Linked DNA regions of Homo sapiens: all the other regions are reported to be linked to region 3. The links are microRNA targets in miRTarBase. Many come from high-throughput screens and were not tested one by one. Region 3 holds a microRNA gene; each other region holds the end of a gene's coding sequence.

Region 1 (3,322 bases), not on the chromosome of region 3:
ACAAACAAATAAGCAAATATAACACTCATATGTAACATAAGAAAATGGAAATGTTGTTGAAGACCAACAGACATATGCATTTCAGCTATGAGATGAGATGTATGCTCCACATATCCCATAAGCTCACTGTGACACTAAAGGAAAAATTTAGCTGATGAAAGAAAAAAAATTTATACAATATAATTCCACCTCACCAAAAAAAAAAAAAAAAAAAAAAAAAGCTTATCAGCTCTATGGTCTAAATGTTTGTGTACTCCCAAAATTGCTATGTTAAAACCTAATCTGCAGTGCTATAGTATTAAGAGGTGGGGCCTTTGGGACATGATTAGGTGATGAGGGCTCTGACCACATGAATGCAGTTAGTATCCTTATAGAAGCTTGAGGGAGTCTGTTATCCCACCACGTGAGGACACACAGAAGGTGCCATAAATGAGCAATGAGCCCTCATCAGACACCAGATCTACTGGCTGGAACCTTGATCTTAGACTTCCCAGCTTCCAGAACTGTGAGCACTAAATTTCTGTCATGTATAAATTACTCATCTAAGGTATTTTGTTATAGCAGCCCAAAATGCACTAAGAAAGACTAAAAAGACAAATTTTATCTATAGATGAAGGATTTAGATGTATTACTTTGGCATGTAAAATACTAAGACAAAAATTTCATTTTGTTAGCATCAGTTTCAGTACTTCCCTTAAAATGCTTCTATAATTTTAGCCACAGTTTCGTTTTGTCTCAAACATAAGGTGACAATGAAGGCATTCCAAACCTTTTCTATGGTGAAATAAAAACATATGTGCACATATATTCAAAATACCACTCCACCACTATACTTCTCTTACCTAGCATTCTTACTTCCATTCACATTTTATTTATTTATTTATTTAGACAGGGACTTGCTAAGTCACCCAGGCAGGAGTGCACTGGTGTGTTCATAGCTCACTGCAGCCTCAAACTCCTTATCTCAAGCAATTAGTGTTCAGCCTCAATTCATATTTTAAATGTGTCAAGGCATGATCTAAGTAAGTTCACAGGAAAGGTTAAAATTGGCAGTCTTTTAGTACTCTGCAGTCTACCAAGGCTTCCACATTTCACATGCACATGCGTAGTCTTATGACACTCAACTGCAGTTCTCATTTCAGGTGCTATTGCTGCTATTATCTCAAATCTTCTCTGTCAATATTCTAATCTGCTACTCTTAAATCATCTTCCACCAATACAGCAACAGAATTCCTTGAGGGTGTTTATTACCTCAACACTTTTATTCTCAAATTTAAGAGAAGTTATTGAAATAAAAGGAAATGGTACCACACAGGACTAGACCTCTGGACGTCATCTGGTCTAGTTCCTTGCCATCAGTCTCAGCCTCCTAGAAAAGCCGGCTGTTACTGTCTTGAGTCCCTGAACAAAGAGACTCTCACTCCTGAAACAATTCTAGGATTAGCTAAAATGCTCTGCCTTGATATAACAATCCAATGCTTTATATCATCTCTCCAAGTCTTTTCATAAAAGCTTTTCATATATTTGAAGATAGCAATTAAGTTAACCTTTATTTTTTCAAAGCTAAATGATGTCAATTTAATGCACTTGTGAAATGTGAAAAAAAAAAGCCCTATGAAAATACCCAATTGAGGTCAGCATTCAATTCACTAAACATTTTCAGATAATGCAGAACCATGAAAAACTTAAATCAGTAGAACAAAACTAGTTTTTTTTTCAGTCGTAAAATGCAACTTTATTTTTTGCCTACTATATAGACAGGCACTGTATTACATGCTAAAGATATAAAAGTGAATGATTAAATTGAATGAATAAATTTATGATGCGACTGTTTGAAGAAAATGTTCCTACCTAAAAAGAGCAAAATTGCTAAGAACAGTCTTTGGAACCAGAATACCTGGGTTCAAATTTCATCCCCACCAACAAACTAGTTATCTGAACTTGAAAAGTCAAGTTTCTTAACCTCTCTATACTTAATTTCTTCATCTGCGTAATAGGAACAGTAATGGTACTGAGCTCAAAACGGTTATTGTAACAATTAGACAAGTTACTAATAGATGTAAAATGCTTACAACAACACCTGGCACATGATAATACTAAATGATTAGAATTATTATTTTTTGGTTTGGTTGTTTTTGAGACAGTCTTGCTCTGTCACCCAGGCTGGAGTGCAGTGGCATGATCTCGGCTCACTGCAACCTCCACTTCCTGGGTTCAAGTGATTCTCTTTTGTTTTTTGTTTTTTTTGAGAAGGAGACTCGCTCTGTCGCCCAGGCTAGAGTGCAGTGGCACGATCTCAGCTCACCGCCAACTCCACCTCCTGGGTTCACACCATTCTCCTGCCTCAGCCTCCCAAGCAGCTGGGACTACAGGCACCCGCCACCAGGCCTGGCTAATTTTTTTTTGTATTTTCAGTAGAGACGGGGTTTCACCGTGTTAGCCAGGGATGGTCTCAATCTCCTGACCTCGTGACCCGCCCGCCTCGGCTTCCCAAAGTGCTGGGATTACAGGTGTGAGCCACCATGCCCAGCCTCAAGTGATTCTTGTACCTCAGCCTCCCGAGTAGCTCGGATTACAGGTGTGCACCACCAAGCCTGGCTAATTTTTGTATTTTTAGTAGAGACAGAGTTTCACCATGTTGGCCAGGCTGGTCTTGAACTTTTGGCCTCAAGTGATCCACCTGCCTGAGGCCTCCCAAAGTGCTGGGATTACAGGCGCGAGCCAGCATACCCAGCCAACAATTAGAATTATACAATATTTTTAATGTAAGTTTTCTATGCAGTAGCCTAAGTGTCTGAAACATACACATACACACTCATGCACCTCAATGAGTAAATGAATAAATAAAAATTATAGTTTAGAATGTATAATTTGGGCTAACGCTTTAAAAAGTAATTACAAAAAAAATTACCTATAAAACAGGAAGCTGACGCTTAATCTGAAGGGTGCTCAGGGCAAGATCTATTTACTTCAAACCATTCATCTATGCAGCTAGAAAGGAACAAAACCAGAAAAATTGAGATACTTATACTAATTATTTATATAATGAGAGCCACAGTAAAAATACTTGACTTTAATATATTTTTTACAGAAAAAAATGAGCATTTTAAATTATATTTGGCATACATAAGCAACAGATAAGAATGTTTATTATATTTTGATTCTAAGCGATTAAGAAAAAAACCTTTGCAAAATTATGCTATAAAGTACTTTAAAGTTCAAACAGAACTACTTCCAAAAGATAATCTGAACTACCACTTTACCAATATTCAAAACTGAATAACAAATTTGCATAATTTTTCTTTTCAAAACAGTTATTCAT
Region 2 (3,322 bases), not on the chromosome of region 3:
CAGTGGGGCTCAGCACAGTGGCTCACGCCTGTAATCCCAGCACTTTGGAAGGCCGAGACGGGTGGATCACCTGAGGTCGGGAGTTTGAGACCAGCCTGTCCAACATAGAGAAACCCCGTCTCTACTAAAAATACAAAATTAGCCGAGCATGGTGGCACATGCCTGTAATCCCAGCTACTCGGGAGGCTGAGGCAGGAGAATCGTTTGAACCTGGGAGGTGGAGGTTGCAGTGAGCCGAGATCCCGCCGTTGCATTCTATCCTGGGCAACAAGAATGAAACTCTGTCTCAAAAAAAAAAAAAAAAAAAAAAAAAAATCACAGTGGTTGTCACAAAGTCTCCAAGTCAGGAAGGAGTCAGACTAAGCTTCCCAGACTGAGAGGGGATCTGTAGACCTAGCTTGATAGTGGGTATAATGAAGAGCTTGACCTTGGGATCAGACATACCTGAATTAAGTCTCCACTCTGCCAATAGGTCTGGTTATTTAATCTCACAGAATTTTCTTGCCTTGAACATGGGGACATTACTACCTTACAGGATAGTATGAAGACTAGAGATAAGAGTTGTACAATAATTGGCACTTAGTAGGTATTTAAAAGATGGTGATTTTTATTATTAGGGTGTGTGCCAACTCACACACACAAGTTTGGGTGACTATGTTTAAAATATATTGTGTGGAGATTTTCAAGGAATCAGAAAATGTGTATGAAATAAAAGTGCTTGGTAAACAGTAAAGTACCCTATAAATATAAATGAATCATTTGGGAAGTCTTTTATAGTTGGATAAAATACAGGACTTGAATTTGGGCAGTAGTTCAGGTCCTACACCCCGCATTTACTTGCTCTGTAACCTTGGGCAAGTCCCTTTCTTTATCAGCCTATTTCTACATACGGCAAATGCAAGTCACTCTTAGTTGCTGTGAGAATTCAATAATGAGTGTAAAGTTCCTGGCACATCTCTTACTGGTGAACGGCAGGGTCCCCATGTTAGGTAAGGTTATGGGTGATGTCAGTTCCAAGCCCGGTGCCAGAATCACACTCTGCCAACTGGCTACAAATGAAGAGGGCCCCTCACTCTGGAAGAGTAGGGCCCCAGATTCACAAGAGAGGTAGATAGGGGTCTTTTGTATTTGTTAGAGGAAGGGTTCTTTTGTATTTGTTAGAGGAAAACTGGGTGAACACTAAACTTCCATGTAGAAAACACTGAAATCTGCCATGTGGAGCCAGGCCTAAACCAGGAGGACAGGAAACCAGACATAATCCCTGCTAAGCTGTTCCAGCCTTGAGGACTAAACTATTGCTACTAAAAGCAAAGACTCTCATTATGGGTTTTAAGATTTCTCTCACCTTATCCCACCCTTCACCCTGTACTCCCCGTCACTGCCGTTTTTCCTTGGCACAGAGTAAGTGCTCAATCAATAACATTGAGGCCAGGTGTGGTGGTGTGCACCTGCAGTCCCAGCTACTCCATACACTGAGGTGGGAGGATTACTTGAGCCCAGGAGATCAAGGCTGCAGTGAGCTGTGATCACACCACTGCACTCCAGCCTGGGCGACAGAGCAAGATCCTGTCTCAAAATAAAATAAAGTTGACCTCAAAATAAAATAAAGTTGAAAACGTTCTCATGCTTGGCACTGACTTGCCATAGAGCAAATGGCCCAAGGCCATATGAAGAGGCCACACTGGCTCCTAACTCCAGGCAAGTCTCCTAAGTGGCTCCTCCTTCAGAAGCCAAAAGGTAAATGTAGTGAAAAGAGCAACAGCTGGCAGTCAGGGAGGCCCAAGTTTGAACTCTGCTCCACAACGTACTTGCTGTATGACTTCACAGCAAGTGACTTTATCTTCCCTCACTTTCATGTCCTCTTCTTATTCCTTTGAGAGTTGCTGTGAGAACTACATGAGATAATGAATGTAAATGTGACTGACAGAATTAATCGCATGTAGTGGATGCTCAATTAATGTTAGTTCCTTTCCTTTCCCCCTTCTCCTCAAAGGCCCCAGAAACTCAGTCTGCTTTCCTTTGCTTTTCAGAGCATCTACCCATCTGTCTTTCTTAGAATTCAAATCCCTTCCAGAGTGGGTTCAGTGGGACAATCTCCCCAGCTCCCCACTTCCCCAAATAAGTACACGGGTCCTTTTCATTGAAGGGTTTTACTGCTAATCACTCTGGGGAAAACAGAGGCAGGTTGGGGGAGGGATAACAAGTAACAAACATGGGGGAGTGTGAAGGTCCCTGGGTCATGGCTCCCTGAGGGTTTCCCTTTCATTTCTAAGGTGGGACCTCAGATCTCTTCTCCAGACCAAGGAGGCCCCTTCCATTGAGAAGGTCACTCCTCCCACCCCAGAGATCTAGAAGCAAAGTTGGGGCACAACAGGTGGGAACTAGCAGGAAACTGCAGTGCACTCCTACCTAAGCAGTTCACAGACAATTTGGAGAACCTTCAGACAGTGACACCCATCTCATAAGTACTTCCTCAAAGGCCAGGGGGACTGCTGCCTTAATAACATGAGCATGTTCTGAGCCTACCCTATTTCTCTTTCACCCCAAGAAAGTAAAGCCAAGACTGGGTCTTCTGACTTTCCAACACGAGAAATTGGCCTGGAAAGAGGCAAGGGTTTTTATTCCAGAGTCCCTCCTCAGGACTTCCTGAGATCCTGACTTCAGAGGCTATACAAAACCATTCTCCAAAGTGGGATGAAGGGCTTGAGGTCAAGGTAGCAGCAAAAGATGCTGAAGATCTTCCTCCAATAGGTTAGGGTCTCTCACTCTCTCTCCCTCACTCTAAATGGGGCTCTCCTTCAGCTGGAATCTTTCCCAGCCTGTTCGCCCAAGTGAGTTTTCTGGTGGCGGATGAGATTCGAGCTCCGGGAGAAGTGTTTCCCACACACAGTGCACCGGTAGGGCTTCTCCCCTCTGTGGGTCCGCTGGTGTGCTCCAAAGTTGGAGATATCGCTGAAGGTCCGCCCACACTCAGTGCACTCATAAGGTCTCTCACCTGTGTGGGTGCGGTGATGCACGCCAAAGCTGGAGCTGTTGCTGAAGCTCTTCCCACACTCACAGCAGATGTAGGGTGCTGGCTCCAGGTGGGTCCGGTGATGCACAGCTAGCGTGGCACTCTGGCTGAAGCTCTTGCCACAGATGTCACAGCGGTATGGCCGCTTGCCTAGGTGATCTTGCTGGTGCGTGGTGAGGTCTGAGCGCCGCCGAAAGCTCTCCTGGCACTTGGGGCATTTGTAGTGTTTCTCTTCCAGGTGGATCCGCTCGTGCCGGATGCGGTTGGAGCTTCTCGAGAAGCTCTTGCCACATTCAGAACACTTGTAAG
Region 3 (3,322 bases):
TAGAACCTAGCTTATGCCCCCTTCCCAGATGTGACACTCAGTGCTCTGAACGACTCCGATGCCAACAGTGACGTGGTGGATATTGAAGGGCTAGGAGAAACTCCTCCAGCTAAGAAACTCAACTTCGACCAGGGTAGGAGTCCTCCTCCTCCCACACAGCTGACGGGGTTGGGGAGAAAGGGCTCACCTGGATGGCAGGGCACGGTCTCCGCAGGGGCCCCTCCCTTGTATAGGGGTTTCAGAAGAGAAGGTGCTCTCATACACAGCGCAGGGCATTGGATCAGTACGTAGCAGGGTGTTTCAGGGAGGTGGGAGTGGCCTTGGAAGCACACTGGGGGCTCGCTCCATCTCGGCCCATTTTACTTCCTGTTCCAGACAGCCTGACCCTGGATTCTGGCCTTCTCATGACCTCTGCTGATCCTCCTCTCCTCTCCTGCTGAGCCTTCCACCTCTGACCTCTCACTGTTCATGCCGGACCTGTGGATCTCCTGGGACTCCGAGCAAGGCCTGCACGAGAGAGGGCTGAAAGGCTGCTGGGGCTGCCACCTCGCTATTCCCGCATAAGCATCTGCCCCCAACCCCTTTGACCTTCATCTGATGGACATTTTTATACAGAAAACAATAAAGATTTCCCTCTCAGCTTCGTGCTGTCTGCTTAACATTATTAGCAGGAGAGGCCTGTTCCCTCTTCTCTCCTCGGCCCATGGGGGCTCAGCCCCTCCTCGGTAGTTTTCACCACCCTGCCTGGAGCAGCACAGCCAATATTGGCAGACTCGCTTCCCTGTGCCAATATTTCTGTGCTGCTAGAGCCAGGGAAGCTGGGTGTGGGCAACAAAGACTCCACTTTGTTCTCTTGAGGCAGAACTTACTCCCAGGGTCTCTGGCCATCAGTATTCTTGAAACTGCCCTGGAGATTTTAGAGGGGTGCTTACATACCCCACCCTCTCCTTGCCCACCTGGCAAGAAGTTTGTCACAAGGCCCCAGATGTTTTTTGTGTCACTTCTCCAGGATGGCCTCCCAGGGCCAAGCCTCGGCGGTGCCTCCCCCACCCTCGCTCTAACACCACAGTGTGGTTTGGACGTGGCCACAGTGCCGTACAAACCACAGTGTGCTGCTGGGGCGGGAGCAGGACCGGGGTGGGTTGAAAGGAAGAGAGCACATAGCAGTGCTGGGAAGACCCCAGCACCACCTCCAGGAGCGGGGGGATAGAGAAGCCTTAAAAGGCAAACATGGCCCCCAAAAACGTTTGGGAGGAACCAGGGACGGGCTGAGCAGGCAACTGGAAGGCGACGGACCATGGGGATGAGCTCACAGTGTAGTAAGATTGGACCATCTTCCCTCTGTAGGAACTCAGCTCAGGGGATCCCTAGGGTGGGGTCAGAGGCAGAAGAAATAGGGAATGACTGGAGGGGCCAACACACTGCCTCCTGTCTCAGCAAGGGCAGGGACCCAAGGCTTCCTGTGTCCGTCCTTCCTCTCCCTGGGTCAGAACCCAAGAGAAAAGCAAGGAGAGACAGAGGGCCAAGGCCAGCAGGGTTGGGAGTTGGCAGTCCAGAGGTGGTGGGGCCGGAACATGGTTGGGAGAGGGGGGCCGGAAGTCGCCCTGGGCCCTGGGCCTGCCACAAGATGGAGGCCAAAGGCAGGAAATGGAGACCAGGGGGAAGGGGAGCAGCAGAGCCCAGGAAGAGGGCCATCTGGACCTGGGGGGCCAGGTATTCAACCCCCAGTGCTGTTCCCACTCCCCAGGGCCCCTGAGGACCCGAGCCGGCCCCCACAGCAACCTCCATCAGCCCATCCACCAGGCCAGGGCAGGCGGGCCCACCCCAGAGAGCCACGTTTAAGCTGAGACAAACATGCCTCTCCCCACCCCCAACTCCAGGCCTTCCCTCAGCCCTTTTCTCCTGTCCAGGACTTGATTTTTTAAAAACACCCCTCAGAAAGCAAAATCCAAGGGCCAAAACTCCTTTTGCAAATCAAAATATGACCCCCTAAAATCCAGAAGTTATCTTCCTATATCCCATCGCATCTTTTACCACCCCCTCTTCCGACACACCCCCCAAAACTCTTAGCAATCTGAAAGATCCAAGGTGGTGTATGTAAGCAGTCTTTTTAGGCCCCCGAAGATGCCAGACCCCTCCCGGACACCCCTATCTGCCCTCCATCAAATCTTGCCAAGGCCTCCTGCTCCTCCACCACCCTCCATAGCCCCCAAACTAACAGTTGCCCCCAGCTCCTACCTCGGCAGAGCCTTTGTGGGGGGTGAAAGAGAAATTAAACACTATCCTAACGGCTGGGGATGTTGGGGGGCTCTCTGGTCTCAGCCTTTGGTTTCCGTCTGGGGGGCTGCAGTTTAGGGGTATAAGAGAAAGCCTCTCCAATCATCCCCCCAATTCCAAGACTGACAAAGCCAACCCCACCCCAGCACGCACCTCCAAACCTCCCCCCCAACCGCCACGTCTCTCCTGAAAACAGAGGACACTTCCCTCCCCACTTACCTCAGCTACTCTCCCCTGAGATCCTGGTCCCCTATTTTGAAAAGAGCAAAATTTAGGGTGCATCCCTCACATTTGGGGTGCAGGAGAAAGGAGCCGCCCCAGTCGCATCGCTGGCCTCCTTCCTCTCGGCTGGCTCAGGGACTGGGGAGTGCCCTGGGGAGGGGGCACCCCCACAAGAGATCTCAGGAGGGGTTCCTCCACTCCCAGTCAGAATTGGGGACACCCCCCCAAAACCCGTCCCAGCCCATCCGTCTCCAACTCGGCGGGAGAGGCAGCTGCAATGCCCCAGTCAGATTCACCCAACACTACATTCCTCACCCCATCTAGAGGGGTCCCGGGGTCCCCAAAAAATCCCAAAAAAATCTAGGATGTTGGGAGGACGGTCCTGGACTAGCTCCCCAAATTTGGGGTCCTCAGATACCCCCGTTTTTTCAGGAAAATTCCGTCTTTTGCCTGCCTCCCGCCAGCCCTGCTCTGTCCCGATGCCAATTTTGGAAGTCACTCCCTCCTTCCTCCTCCCCGTCTCTCCAGGCCCCCCCCACCGCTCGGGGGCTAGGGTCCAGGACACCTGGCTTCCAGACCGGGGGGAATCACTCCTCAAAGGGCTAGGGGCCAGGAGGTCAAGCTCATTGCCCCTGTCTTAAGGAAGCAGGAAAGCCCGTTCCTCCCTTCCCCTCCCCCCTGGCTGGTCACCGTGGTGGTTTAGGAAAGCCTGGAGGATTGGAATCTGCCATTGCTGTTGCACAGGCAGTTTTTTTTCTTGGGTTGGGGGGGTGGGCGGTGGGAGGGAGAGAGGGGAGGAGGGCCGAAGAGAGAAGGGACCCAG
Region 4 (3,322 bases), not on the chromosome of region 3:
CTGATGGGACATGGGATCCAACCTTTCCTGAGGACCTACTCCACACCAGGCCCTTTGCAGTGCTCTCATTGAATACTCACAGCTACAGTGTGAGGGTGTAATTACATCCCCATTTTATAGATGAGGAAACTGAGGCCCCGAGTGCGTCTTCCTCAAGGCCACATGGTGAATGGTAAGTGGCAGATCCTGCACACCTCTGCCAACCCGCATGGGTGCAGGAGAGGTGGTCAGACCCACCCTTTCAATTGGACCACCCTGCTCAGGTTGAGAAGAGCTTTCAGTGCAGGTAGGTCTTGAGTTATATGCTTTAGTTGGGGCTGGGATTTGAGGGTTCGGCAGAAGCTGAGTCCAACTCCGGTCCCCATCCAGTGGGCAGTGTCAATAAGAGGGTCTATAAGGCCTGGCAGGGCCTGAGACACTAACGCAGGAGAAGGAGGCTCAGGAGGCTGGTATCATCCCTTCCTCCCTTTAGGAACAGTCCCTACCAGCCTGGAAAACAGACCAGCCTCTGTCACTCCAGAGATAACCCACTCTCATCTTGCTCGTACCTGGCTTCAGGGATCTTGGGGAGAGATAAGAGGTTAAAAAAGGTGAGACTAACAGTGGGATCCCTGGACTGACTGCTGTGGCACTCCCCTGCAAGGGCATCTGGTAGGGAAGACCTAACACTCTCCACTACACACACACTGCCACACCCGGCACCACCCCTAGCCAAACAAGGCCCTAGGAGGGGGCTGCCAGGCCTGGCAGAGGAGGGGCCCGCCTCCGCAGTTCTGCCCACTGCAACTGGACATGCTCCAGAGCCCAGGGGAGGCACAGCCATAGCACCTCCCAGTGGCGCCTGCAGGAAAAGCAGGAAGAGGAGTGGGCCCTGGCGAGGGGAAAGCCCACTCCTCCATCCCTGACCCTGCAGACCTCTGGTTGTGTTCTGAATTCAACAGATTCCTTGGCCCCCAAATCATGTCCTCCTTAGCCGACTGAAGTCTAAATGAATCTTTCAGGGACATATCAAAACTCCCTCCTCTTGGAGCCTGCCCAGCTTTCATCACCCTCCTGCCTCGGCCTGCACGCTGAGCGGATTATAAACGCCGCATCAGGGAGCACTGCTTGGGCCTGTGGCTTGGTGAGCTGGGGGCCGCTCAGGTCAGAGGTGAAGTGAGCCTCAGTCTGGTGGGCGGGGCCAGGTGGGCAGAGACTGCTGTTCCTGGGGAGGTAAGGAGGGATGTCTGCAGTGGGATGGCGTGGGAAAGGCTTTTCCAGGAACTGGCCTCTGTCCAGCACAGTGCCCCGGTAAATGTTTACTGAATTAATGCTGTTGCTGGAGGGACAGGAAAAACGGGAGAATCAAGGAATTGCAGTTCCCAGTAGGGCCATGGCTTGAAGAATGGGGAAATGGAAGACCTCCGCCTCTCCCCTCATCCTCAACAGCTCCACCCAGAGGGAGTGCAAACAAGGGCCCCAAGAACTGAGTCTGGTTGTTTATTGAATGCAAATTCATTCATAGAAAACGGAAATGCAACCATAGCATGGAGACGCTCTGAGAAAAGATCCAGACCCACCTCATCTCCCAGCCCTTCAAGCAGAGCTATAAAAACAAGTTTGGGAGAAAAACACATTCCCATCCCCAAAGCAGAGGCCCCGCCTGAGCTCCCCCATCCTCAGCATCTGGGGTGGACCAGGTGGGACGAAGGGGATCCAAGGACCAGGGTGGCCAGGGTGCCCAGAGCTGGGGCAATTCTTTGTAAACTCCAAGGTTTCATAGGTATGTGTGTGCATGACTAACACAGAACTTGCCTGAAGACTGGACGGAAACTTAGAAGCCAGCCCTGGGTCCTAGAGCGAGGCTAGGACTGGGCACGTAGAGGGAAACAGCACATCCCTTCCTGAAGCCCCTTTCTAAGGTAGGCACTGGGGTGCCCACAGCTGTGGAGGCAGAACGGGCTGAACTCTGTATCATCCCTCCTTTGCCCCTGGACATTCTTGGGCAGTGTCAATGGCACTGAAAGGCCACCAGCTGGGGTTTGGCAAGACTAAGGGCCTGGAAAGAAGGAAGGGAAGGGGTGAGGCGCTTCTCCCTCCAGTCCTGGTGCTGGCATCAGTCTGGGAGCTGATGGGATGAAGAGGTGACCTCTGAATTCAGCCTCTTGAATCAGAAGGCGGTTCTCAAATTGGGCTGAGCGCATTGCTAAAGAGCCAGCCCTGAGCACAGGTCAGAGGGAAGAGAATACGCACTGCCCCAGGCCCCTTGCAGGCCTTAGCACCAAAAGTCTGGCACCAGCTGGCCAACCCCCAAAATCTCATACCCCCATCCATCCTGGCTGACTGGAATGGGCAGTGATGGCAGCCAGGGACAGCCCAAAGAGAACTGGGGCCCTGATACAGGACAGAGATTCAGGCCCCAGACTAGGCCCTGGAGTGGGAGTATGGGAGGAAAAAGAGGCCTTAGGTCCCAGGCTGGGGCATTGTGGGGAGGAGGACGGGCAAAATGCAAGGCATGAAATGGGGAGGGTGTCCCTTCCATCCTTCCTCTTGCAAAGGGACAAATGGAGAGCCAAAGGACAGGGGCCCATGGAAGGCCCCAACACTGAGAAGAAAGCAGCAATTTGGCCAACATCTGGGGGTTCCAGGGGAGCAGGCCTGCTCCTCGGCAGAGGGCAGCTGCAAGGTTCCATGCCACCCCATGGCTGTCCCAGGCCAAGCCTAAGCTAGACCTGGCTGTCCTGCTGCCATCCAGTGCTGGGCAGCGGTGCTGGGACTCATCCCCACAGCACGACAGAGTGACCGGTCTATGACACAAAGGAGCTCAGGGCCCCTTGAGGTGAAGCGAAGGGCCCAGCTCCTGCTAGAAGACATAGATCTTGTCCCGCTGCACAGTATCCAGGTCGTCATCCAGTGTCAGCAACACCTGGGGTGTGGACGCCAGATCAGCCACAGAGAAGGAGGCAGCTGCTACCTTCACGTACCCACCCGGCTCGGCCGGGAGGCCCGCTTACCAGGAAGGACCCGAACATGGCGATGGAGGAGAGGAAGTGCCAGATGTCGTGGTCGTCAAAGAAGTCGAGGAGGATGCAGTCCCGGTTGTGCTCCCTCGACTCTGCAGGGGTTTTCTTGGGGAGCAACAAGAAAAACTGCCGAATGACCCTGCTCTGGCAGGGCAAGGGCCAGACCCATCTGCCATCTTGCTCCTGGGCACCCCTCTCTCCAGCCCCAGGCAGGACAGCAGCAATTCTGACCTGTCCCTTGTCCTTGTCCCTACCCCTTCCCGATCTAACAAATGGCCTTTGGTTACAAACTTCTCCCTGAGTTCACTGGCTTCTCTTCC
Region 5 (3,322 bases), not on the chromosome of region 3:
AGAGAAGCTGGAGAAGCTCATGGTCAAGATCGGGGTCTTCTCCATCCTCTACACGGTGCCCGCCACCTGCGTCATCGTTTGCTATGTCTACGAACGCCTCAACATGGACTTCTGGCGCCTTCGGGCCACAGAGCAGCCATGCGCAGCGGCCGCGGGGCCCGGAGGCCGGAGGGACTGCTCGCTGCCAGGGGGCTCGGTGCCCACCGTGGCGGTCTTCATGCTCAAAATTTTCATGTCACTGGTGGTGGGGATCACCAGCGGCGTCTGGGTGTGGAGCTCCAAGACTTTCCAGACCTGGCAGAGCCTGTGCTACCGCAAGATAGCAGCTGGCCGGGCCCGGGCCAAGGCCTGCCGCGCCCCCGGGAGCTACGGACGTGGCACGCACTGCCACTATAAGGCTCCCACCGTGGTCTTGCACATGACTAAGACGGACCCCTCTTTGGAGAACCCCACACACCTCTAGCCACACAGGCCTGGCGCGGGGTGGCTGCTGCCCCCTCCTTGCCCTCCACGCCCTGCCCCCTGCATCCCCTAGAGACAGCTGACTAGCAGCTGCCCAGCTGTCAAGGTCAGGCAAGTGAGCACCGGGGACTGAGGATCAGGGCGGGACCCCGTGAGGCTCATTAGGGGAGATGGGGGTCTCCCCTAATGCGGGGGCTGGACCAGGCTGAGTCCCCACAGGGTCCTAGTGGAGGATGTGGAGGGGCGGGGCAGAGGGGTCCAGCCGGAGTTTATTTAATGATGTAATTTATTGTTGCGTTCCTCTGGAAGCTGTGACTGGAATAAACCCCCGCGTGGCACTGCTGAGTCCTCTCTGGCTGGGAAGGGGGGAAGGTAGGAGGGTGAGGGCCCTGCAGGAGTCTTTCTTGTAAGCAGAGCTGGCAGTGGGTGCTGGCACCCCCCAATCAGGAGGAAGTCCCCCCGGAACAGCTGTGCATTGCAGGAGTCCCAGACACCATGTGTGCGTGTTTTCCCCTCCCGCCCGTCTCTGTGCTTCCAAATGGAGACAGGGACGCCTGCGGATGTTCAGGGAATTCCCCAGGGTGACACTGCCACCTCTGGCCCCAGGGAGTCCAGTTTGAGGCTATGGATGAGTTTTCCTTCTCTGGGAACTTGCTCTCCTTATTGGCGTGGAAAGTAAAGGTGTCAGCCTGTGTCAATGTTGTCACGAGGACCGCCTCCCTGGGGCCTTGGAAAATTGCTGGTGCGTCTGCCTGGCTCCTCGGGGCCCCCACCAGGGCAGCCCCCACCAGGGCAGCCCCAGCCTGCTCCCTGGCGTCTCCAGGTGGGGTGAAGAGGTTGTTCTGGTCTGTGGGCCTCTGGGTAGCACAGACATGCACGTGGAGCTGGGAAGCCCTTGAGTAGAGTGGGAATTGGGCCCCTAGCTCCTAAGCTTGTCAGATTTGAGTTGCTAATGGCAGCGGTGGGAATGAGGCAGCTCAGGTGGCTGTGCAGAGCTCCACACTGGGGCAGGTATGGGGAAAGGTCCCATGTCCATCTGTGTGCTGGGGTAGCTTAGGGCTGCTAGGGCCTGTCCTGTTTCTGCGGACTGGGTAGCTGGGCACGTGTGGCCATCTGGAGACCCCTATTGGCTTGGGGTCAGACCCCAGGGCCCCATCTTGGCTGCTGTGACTCCAGCCAGGTGAGAGTATTAGTTACTAGTGTCCCTGGGTGCCTACTATACACGGCCGGCATTTGGTGTCAGTGCCAGGAGATCCCAGCGGTCCAGCCCTGCTGCCAGCCTCACTTTAGAGCCACGGGGAGGCTCCAGGAGGGGAGACGCTCAGGTGCTGAGGATGAATGGTGAGGCGGAGCCCCAAACCTAGGGCCTCTCGGGCTGGAGCCCTGTGCCCTACCCCAACCACCAATCCTACAGGGACAAGAAAAGTCCAGTGAGAATCAAACAGGTTGGGTCACGCTCCCAGGAGACAAGACCATGGCAGGCTGAGGGGGTTAAGGGGTATTCCTCACCACAAGGCGCAGTGGTGCCCCAGGGAAGCTTACAGCCCTTGCACCTGTTCTTAGGCCGTTTATTGCACGGGGAACGCCCTCTCCATCTAAATCCTTCCCTTTGCGCAGAGCACACATTAAGTAAGTCCCCATGTGCCTCTGACCAACAAAGCCAAGTGACCCTACCTCCTTGTAATGCTGCACGAGGGTTTTTTGTTTGTTTTTTGTTTGTTTTTGTTTTTAATTTAAGGCAGAGTCTCACTCTGTTGCCCAGACTGGAGTGCAGTGGCACGATCTCAGCTCACTGCAATCTCTGCCTCCCAGGTTCAAGCAATTCTCCTGCCTCAGCCGCCTGGGTGGCATCCGCCACCATGCCTGGCTCATTTTTGTATTTTTTTGTAGAGACGGGGTTTCACCATGTTACCCAGGCTGGTCTTGAACTCCTGGCCTCAAGTGATCCACCCACCTTGGCTTCCCAAAGTGCTGGGATTATAGGCTTGAGCCACTGCACCTGGCCATGCGAGGGTCTTTGAGTGGGAAACAGAATGAGCTCGTTAGAGGCAGTAAAGTGCCCACACTGGGCGTGGGAGGGGCAGAGGCTTCAGGGAGCTGGGCTCACAGGCAGTGGAAGGGAAGATGGGAAGGGCCTATACCAGGGCGGGGGCAGCTGGAGCGAATGGAGAGGATTCCACAGACTTGGGAAGAGCAAGGCAGGCGGGGTGTGGGAAAGGCAGGGGGAGGATGAGCATCCAAGGGCACCCACCTGCCCCTTCTTTCTTCCTTGCTGTCAGTGACCATGTCCTGCTCAGCAGACACCAGCCTGCTGCTGGTTTTCAGGGCAGCCCAGATGGGAGCGCAGAGAGGGGCAGTGCAGGGTCAGGACAGGCCCCGGGGGCTGTGCTTTGAGGCCAGGACCTGGGAGGGAGGGCAGGGCCCTGCCAGCTTTCTCAGACCTGGAAGATGCTATGGAAATAAGTCCTAGGCCCTGGAGGAAAGGGAAAAAGGAAACACAGCCCTCTCATGTGATCTGCTCGCCTCACGTTTCGGACGGGAAGTGTTTAGATTGGTTGGCCGCTACAGCACATAGCCACGCAGTTTGAGGCCAAGCTGGGAGTTGAACCCAAGTCTGCCTCCAGAACTTTTGTGCGTTCCACACCAGGGATCCGATTAGGTCCTGGTGGGGAAAGGCAGGGTGTATGCCTTGGCAAGTTTATGTCCCCAGAAGCTGGGCAAAGCGGGTGGGGAGGAGACAAACACCCCTACCACTGCCAGACCTCTCCCCACGCCCATTAAAGAACCCTCCAGGGCCAAACAAAAATACCTCGGAAACCCACACGTGCTGGCATGTGCATCGCGTGCCCAGGCCCGGGCC
Region 6 (3,322 bases), not on the chromosome of region 3:
GGCTGACGAAAGACAGAATTTTATTTCCTTAGTTTATTAAAGATGACAATGAACTGCCAGGCTGCACAAGCACCACAGCAGGTGGAAACGCAGTTCAGAGCACGGGCGGCACACACGGAACATCTCTACTAAGACTCGCACTCCTTTTATGTTAGTTCAACGAAAGCTCTAAATCCTTGGCAGAGAACGTCAAAAACAGCCTCATTTAAGTGGAAAATATTTGTCTTCCACTCTTCTGCTATGTCTTGAATCTTGTCTCCACCTGGTAAGCAAACTATGTTTTTTTTCTTTCCCTTTACTTACAGAAAGAACACTATCACCTGCCTTCATTTAGAAGGAATTCTCTTCAGTGCATTCAAAGCTTCTCCCCGCAACAGCAGGGGATTTTCAGATAGTGGTAACTTGCAAAGTGCTTCCAAAACATCCCATCCTCTACCCACTTCCCCCCTCTTGAATAAATAACTGGGTATTTGGAAGGTGAGGACGGCATCGTGTCAGAGTCACTAAAACAGACGCACGATCTAAAGGGATGGGGTGCGGTTGAGGGAGCTAGGGAAAAATAAGTGACAAGTGAGGAGCCTATGAGACTGTTGAGTTCGGCTTCAGAAGCTGTCAGCATTGTCATCCTTTGATCCTATGCTGATGTGAAACAGGCAGGACAAGACGGCACATCTGTCCTCCAGCGCAGTGACCTGGAGAAAGAGCTGGATGTGTCACCTTTTTGTTTTTTGAGACGGAGTCTCACTCTGTCACCCAGGCTGGAGTGCGGTGGCGCAATCTCGGCTCACTGCAACCTCTGCCTCCCAGGTTCAAGCGATTCTCCTGCCTCAGCCTCCCAAGTAGCTGGGATTACAGGCGTGTGCCACCACGCCCAGCTAATTTTTGTATTTTTGGAAGAGACAGGGTTTCACCACATTGGCCAGGCTGGTCTCAAACTCCTGACCTCATGATCCGCCCGCACTGGCCTCCCAAAGTGCTGGGATTACAGGTGTGAGCCACTGTGCCTGGCCTGGATGTGTAATTTAAACCAAAACTGGAAGTAGAGCTCATTTTTATAAACTCCTGGGTCTGAATCTGGGACCTAACCCCTAGTTAAACTTGAGTTCTGTGGGGTCATTCTTAAAGCTCCCTGAAGGACCTGGGCACTTCTAGTCACAGCCCTTCAGAACTTCTGGGACTTGGCTTTTTGAGTCTCACTATGAACAGAAGGGAGAACAGCCTCAGGGTCTTCTAGCCCTACATGGCTTTCAGATCCCAACTTTGAGGCAGAGGAATCAAGGGCAGGGGCCAGTTCCCACATGTTCCCTCTCACGCTGGTGGAGCCTCAGCCCTGGCCATCACCTTAATGCCTCTCCCACTTCCCTGGGAGACTCCTTCTTACCGCCAGCTCAAGCTCTCATCAGCTTCCACCAACCACAGGCAACTTTCCGCTCAGCTTCCAGGGCAGCACCCACGCCCATTTCTTTCCTACCAGCAAGCAACTATGAGAAGACATGCCCATGGGCAGAATTCAATCCCAGAACAAAAATGATGCAGGCTTTAGTTCACAGAGCTGCCAGCTCTTGGAGAAGCCACTCTGACCAGTGTTTTCACAGAGGTTAGAAGCTGCATCAACTTAAGGAACATCACAAACACACACATGGCCCCACCCAAGGACTTCACTGTCAACACACACATTAACGGGGGGGAAGGGGGAGGCAGCACACCAAAATCAGCATTATCAAAAGGACTTCACCATCAACACACATTAACGGGGGGAGGGGGGCAGCACACTAAAATCAGCATTATCAAATGAACAGATAAACATTACCAGGCTACACAGAGTTAAGTGCATAATTGGCATAAAGGCTCTTGTTATCCCAAGAACACAGGGACATTCACACTCACATCCACAAACCGTCAAGTTCTGTAACAGCACTAATAGCAGGAAGCTTTTCTCCAACTTTGACCAAAGAAGCTAAGGCAAGAGAGACTCGGCCACCAGGGAAGGACCCAGCTCTGCTGCAGGAAGGGGAGAGAACGGAGTCGGGTTGTACTTTTACTCAGAAGCACAACGACCATCTAACAGAGGACAGAGTCATCAGGGACACGCTAAGAAGATGGTGGGTGAGGTTCCTGTCCTCACCTTAGGATGGCATCAGGGACCTGCCTGAGCTTCAAAGATCACACCTGCACCAAAAAGCCAGGTTAACTAAGAGACCTTAACACCAAGAGGGGGCCGACCGCTCCTCTGAGTAAGCGCTCCTTCAGCGACAGAGCTGGCGCCTCACGTATGCTTGCGGCGTAAGGCTACAGGTGAGCCTGGCCTGAGCATCAGTTCTGTTCTTTGCTTCAAGATCACCAAGGTAGATGAAGAAAGTCAGCTTGTGGCATCCTCTATGCTTCAAATATTTCAAACAGGAACTCCCGGCAACATAGGGACATTCACAGCTGCCTCTGAGGTCTCTGAGGAGTCTAGGATAGTCAGGATTGTTCTGTGGCCCCCAAAATACCCAAATAAGTGGACGAAATGCCCATGACGTAGTCCTATTCTCTGCTGCTTCTCCTCGGGGCACAGTCTGACCCCAGTCCAGGACAGGGAGAGGGAAAACGCCATCCCCGTTTCAGCAGCAGGAGAGGTGGTTGAGAAAGGCCTGGCTCAGAAGCTCCAGAACTGAAACAAAGGAAAATTGGAAATGATACCTGACATGCAGGTGAAACCTAGAGGAGAAGGCCACAGACGCTGGAAGAACTTGGTCTTGCTGTCTCTTCCACTGACAGAGGCACTAGAAGCTTCACTGAAGGACCCGCATGTCAGTTCTGATGGAAACACCTGGTGTTTACAAATTATCTGTCACCACAGACTCTGGACCCATCAACCTGCCGACGGCTGACTGCACACAGACGTCAGACAAGTCAGTAAAAAAAAAAAAAAAGATGATGATAATTAAAAAAAAAAAAAAAAAAAGAAGCCCCAGGTGGGGCGAGTCCTTCAAAGAGTGGCTCAGTTCTGCAACAGGTGTGACCCGGCCCGGAGGGAGGGCTGCACGTGCTTTCTTCAGGTGGCCTCCAGGACGGCGGCTTCCAGGGCCAGCGCTTCCGCGGGCTCCTCCTCGTAGTCTGACAGGTAAGACTCCAGGCTCTGCCTGGCCAGTGCCTCCCGCCGGGCCTGCAGCCGCTCGCAGCGCGGACAGCTTCCAGACTTGAAGCAGGCTTTATGGTAACACGCTTTACACTCTACTCAGGTTGGGAAGGTGGGGGAGAGAAGAAAACAATTTGTATTATCTCCAGCTAGAGGTCAGTTGCTGCCACAGCCCCTTCTCGCCACCAAGGCGTGGTGTCC
Region 7 (3,000 bases), not on the chromosome of region 3:
CCAGAATTCTAGCATTACCAAGGATTTACACATAAACTTCATCATACATTGAATCATTTGGTTTACACTTTCTTTACAAAGTTATATCCTAAATGGGTAGAGCAGCTTGTCTTAAATAACAAGGTTAGAATTCTGAGACACAACGAAAGTTGTGCAAGCTTTCCGCTGAAAGAAATTTGCAACGAGACACAAATACCACTGCAGGGGCTTTGAATATAGGAGACATTGATAAACAGAGTTATAAGTCAGTGTTATCAACTGCAAAATCATGACTTTACCACCACCCAAGCCAGAAAGGCCCAAAAGCACCACCACGAAAATTAATCCTGTGTCTGAAACTTTTCAAGACTAATTAAAAGGGTTGCTGTGTCCAAGCATGAAGAACGCAGGGACGCTTCTGTCAATCATTAGGCGAACACTGGCCTGGGGACTTGGGACATCAGGAATGTCCATGCCACATTAGTGCTTACTCGCAACGAACAGTGAAAACTACACGCTTAAGGACAAGTTTCAGGATGTTCCACACACTGACTCATTCCATGGAGAAAATCCAGAATTGATTCAGACGTCCCATGGGAATGCAATTTTCCAGCTCTATGCCAGATATTTTCTAGCTCTTCATTAAAAAGAATCCAATTCCACTGACTTCGATAGGGCCATGGTAAAGAACAATGTGAAACTCCTATAAAGCAAGGAGTTGGTGTCGCCTGGTCAGCGAAATGAGCCACAGCAACCTCACACATACGATTCAATGTAAAGCAAATTAGTTCATCACTTTATTACATCTTAGTGCTTTCTTAAAATAAATACAGTAATATCATATCAAACATACAGTGAGAAATAAAGCCCACGTGTGAAAGTATGGTAACAGAAAGCTCACTCAGGACTGTGTAACTCAGCACTTGAGAAATCATACAGCCTTTAGTTCCCTATTTACAGGACAGAGAGCGGCTGTGTCGAACACGATATATACAAAATCGCAAGAGACTGTACTTCTCTTCAAAGGACTGAGGAAAGGGGAATAAGACCTATAATTCCTTCTAGCCTTCTGTACCATGTTCCCTCCTTATGTACACGACTCACTCATGTTTTTTGTCTATCTAAAATTATGTAACAGTTAAATTTGTCTCTTTTTCTCCCAATTATTGATCTTTTGATTTTTTCTGCAGTTTGAGATAGATTCAAGTAACACTCCCAAGAAAATATGTGCAAAACTAATGTTAGTGGCTCCAGAATCTTCCGGCAGCTGGTCAGTTGCAGCAGTGTCTGGCAGCCATGGCTGGCACGCACCTGCTCCTGGGAATGTCCGCGCTCCACAGAAGCATCAACACCATTGGGACCAAGGCAGAAAGAACCCAAAGCCATCCACTTACTTGGAGTTCTGAAATAACTGCAAATAACCACTTAATTGTTTTTAAATAGGCAACAAAACAAAAGTATCCATCTACAGGGGAAACGGCACGCTCCTCTGAGAGCATGCAGCGCTTCCAGATGCAGAATCCAGACAGGACAAGCCGTGACCTAACAAAACCACTGAAGGGACTGTCAGCTTAAGTGCATCACCTTTTGGGACAAACATGCTCAGAATGAAAAATATTCTACTTTACCAAAATCTGTCTTTATTAAAGTGAACAAACCATTAGAGCACTACCCAAAACTTAATGAATGATGGCTGCAGTTGGCTCGGCTTGCCTACTTTAAATGAGGCAAACATCAGCTCCTAGTGCCATTCCCCACCCTCATGACCGCGTGCCAGAAGTCATCATCTTCACATTTGTAGACGTTGTTCTAGCGGAAGACAGGCTTTGCAGATTTCGGTGCTTTTAGTGAACTGGTGTTTTCCGTAAACTTTTTCTGAGCAGCAAGGGATAAGAATTTTTTTTCAGAAATCTTAGAATTGGATATAAATGTTGGCAGTAGACACAACCAATAAATATCATACAATTTCTCAAATGAAAAAGATTTCCCATTATGAATTCCTTTGCTATAGACATTCAAACACCCCAAGCCAAGATTGAGCCTCAGTCCCATAGTCACGAGATTACAGCTGGCCAATATGAGGGTGTCAGGCAATGTGCAAGGGGGCGAGGTGAGAAGCAAGAAAGCAAAGTGGATCACGTCTAATCTATGCTGAAGGAGAACTTCAAGTAAGGGAGCTCCGTGGCCCGGGACCTGGCTGTGAACACCCTCCGCTGGGAGCCTCAGTGGTCAGCAGTGGCCACAGCAGTGCGAGCCACTGCAAAAGCGGCATCTACTCCCCCATCCTCACCCTGCCTGGCATCCTCTGCGTGAGATGAGCGCTGAGAGAGGGGTTTTCTTCTGCTGTCTAGAAACCTCTTTGCAAAAGGTCTGTGACTTTGCACACTTCGTACCCAAATAGATGAAAACAATAAATAAGGACCCCGTGGCACCCTCTGGATGCCAGCCACAAGGGCATCATTTACGAGTCTGGGTCACCCTTTGGACGCCAGCTGCACCGGGGTCATTTACGAGTCTGGGCCTTCTTTGGCACTGCAGGCCGCTTGGGCTGCCACAGGTGGTTGTGGATTGTGAGTGCGTCCACACTGACAGACATGGTTTTGGCTGGGATCAAGTTAAACTGTTTTCGGTCTGAGCTGTATTTATACAGTTTGTCGATCATTTTCTTGGTGATGTTCTTTGGCCCCGTGCCAGTGAGTTTGTAGATTTCCTCAGTATCAGGATAGTAGCAGTAAAGCGCCCTGAACTGGCAGCCAGCATCACGAAACAGTATGATGTAGTGATTGGCATCACACTTCTCCAGCTCCTGTGCAGAGAGAGAAAAGGGGAAGAGACAAACACTTCAGGGCCACTCCAATTGCCACGAGTTGGGCTCCCACAGCGGCTCAACCAGCACCGCTCCGTGGGAAGCTCTCCCACCCGTCAGCTACGGCCTGCCTGTTGTAAACAATTACAGCAGACCCCTGTACGGGAGCATTATATGCCATTGAGACTTTACTTAAGAAGTCTAAGCAAGCAAGG

Evidence for each region. The annotated mature microRNA hsa-miR-497-5p reads CAGCAGCACACUGUGGUUUGU and lies in region 3 at 1,098-1,118, opposite strand. An mRNA with a match to its seed (bases 2 to 7 or 8) in the 3' UTR can be bound and repressed. Matches are read on the target gene's strand: a 7mer-m8 pairs with bases 2 to 8, a 7mer-A1 pairs with bases 2 to 7 and ends in A, and an 8mer does both.
Region 1: the mRNA of ZNRF2 is a reported target of hsa-miR-497-5p. The part of its 3' UTR that is shown has no 7-base or 8-base seed match.
Region 2: the mRNA of ZNF691 is a reported target of hsa-miR-497-5p. Seed matches in the 3' UTR shown: 8mer at 2,716-2,723.
Region 4: the mRNA of SIDT2 is a reported target of hsa-miR-497-5p. Seed matches in the 3' UTR shown: 7mer-m8 at 2,595-2,601.
Region 5: the mRNA of FZD9 is a reported target of hsa-miR-497-5p. The part of its 3' UTR that is shown has no 7-base or 8-base seed match.
Region 6: miRTarBase lists RUBCN as a target of hsa-miR-497-5p. Seed matches in the 3' UTR shown: 7mer-m8 at 2,606-2,612.
Region 7: miRTarBase lists CAMSAP1 as a target of hsa-miR-497-5p. Seed matches in the 3' UTR shown: 7mer-m8 at 1,858-1,864.

The regions. Positions count from the first base shown.
Region 1 is chr7:30,362,046-30,365,367 of GRCh38, reverse strand. ZNRF2 (zinc and ring finger 2) reads right to left here. Exons shown (of 5, transcript NM_147128.4): 4 at 2,912-2,991. The coding sequence ends at 2,934. Among named protein-coding and RNA genes, the nearest start is that of LINC01176, 27 kb to the left of the region's middle.
Region 2 is chr1:42,851,290-42,854,611 of GRCh38, reverse strand. It overlaps ZNF691 (zinc finger protein 691), which reads right to left. Exons shown (of 4, transcript NM_001242739.2): 4 at 2,135-3,322. The coding sequence ends at 2,799. Among named protein-coding and RNA genes, the nearest start is that of ZNF691, 6.3 kb to the right of the region's middle.
Region 3 is chr17:7,016,882-7,020,203 of GRCh38, forward strand. MIR497 (microRNA 497) reads right to left here and starts at 1,141; the gene lies at 1,030-1,141. It overlaps BACC1 (BPTF associated chromatin complex component 1), which reads left to right. Exons shown (of 6, transcript NM_174893.4): 5 at 29-133; 6 at 380-639. The coding sequence ends at 384. It overlaps RNASEK-C17orf49 (RNASEK-C17orf49 readthrough), which reads left to right. Exons shown (of 8, transcript NR_037717.1): 7 at 29-133; 8 at 380-643. It overlaps MIR497HG (mir-497-195 cluster host gene), which reads right to left and starts at 2,773. Exons shown (of 3, transcript NR_038310.1): 1 at 2,497-2,773; 2 at 188-507. It also overlaps MIR195. RefSeq lists enhancers at 1-326, 1,678-1,847.
Region 4 is chr11:117,195,587-117,198,908 of GRCh38, reverse strand. It overlaps SIDT2 (SID1 transmembrane family member 2), which reads right to left. Exons shown (of 26, transcript NM_001040455.2): 25 at 2,994-3,107; 26 at 1,467-2,905. The coding sequence ends at 2,843. It overlaps LOC100652768 (a long non-coding RNA gene), which reads left to right. Exons shown (of 8, transcript NR_045215.1): 3 at 121-172; 4 at 473-590; 5 at 1,002-1,123; 6 at 1,505-1,679; 7 at 1,763-1,901; 8 at 2,875-3,296. Among named protein-coding and RNA genes, the nearest start is that of TAGLN, 2.1 kb to the left of the region's middle. RefSeq lists a silencer at 622-916 and enhancers at 319-982, 2,315-2,814.
Region 5 is chr7:73,435,321-73,438,642 of GRCh38, forward strand. It overlaps FZD9 (frizzled class receptor 9), which reads left to right. Exons shown (of 1, transcript NM_003508.3): 1 at 1-800. The coding sequence ends at 463. Among named protein-coding and RNA genes, the nearest start is that of FZD9, 3.2 kb to the left of the region's middle. RefSeq lists a silencer at 99-393.
Region 6 is chr3:197,671,981-197,675,302 of GRCh38, forward strand. It overlaps RUBCN (rubicon autophagy regulator), which reads right to left. Exons shown (of 20, transcript NM_014687.4): 20 at 1-3,216. The coding sequence ends at 3,038. MIR922 (microRNA 922) reads right to left here and starts at 2,596; the gene lies at 2,516-2,596.
Region 7 is chr9:135,808,827-135,811,826 of GRCh38, forward strand. CAMSAP1 (calmodulin regulated spectrin associated protein 1) reads right to left here. Exons shown (of 17, transcript NM_015447.4): 17 at 1-2,785. The coding sequence ends at 2,483. Among named protein-coding and RNA genes, the nearest start is that of CAMSAP1, 97 kb to the right of the region's middle.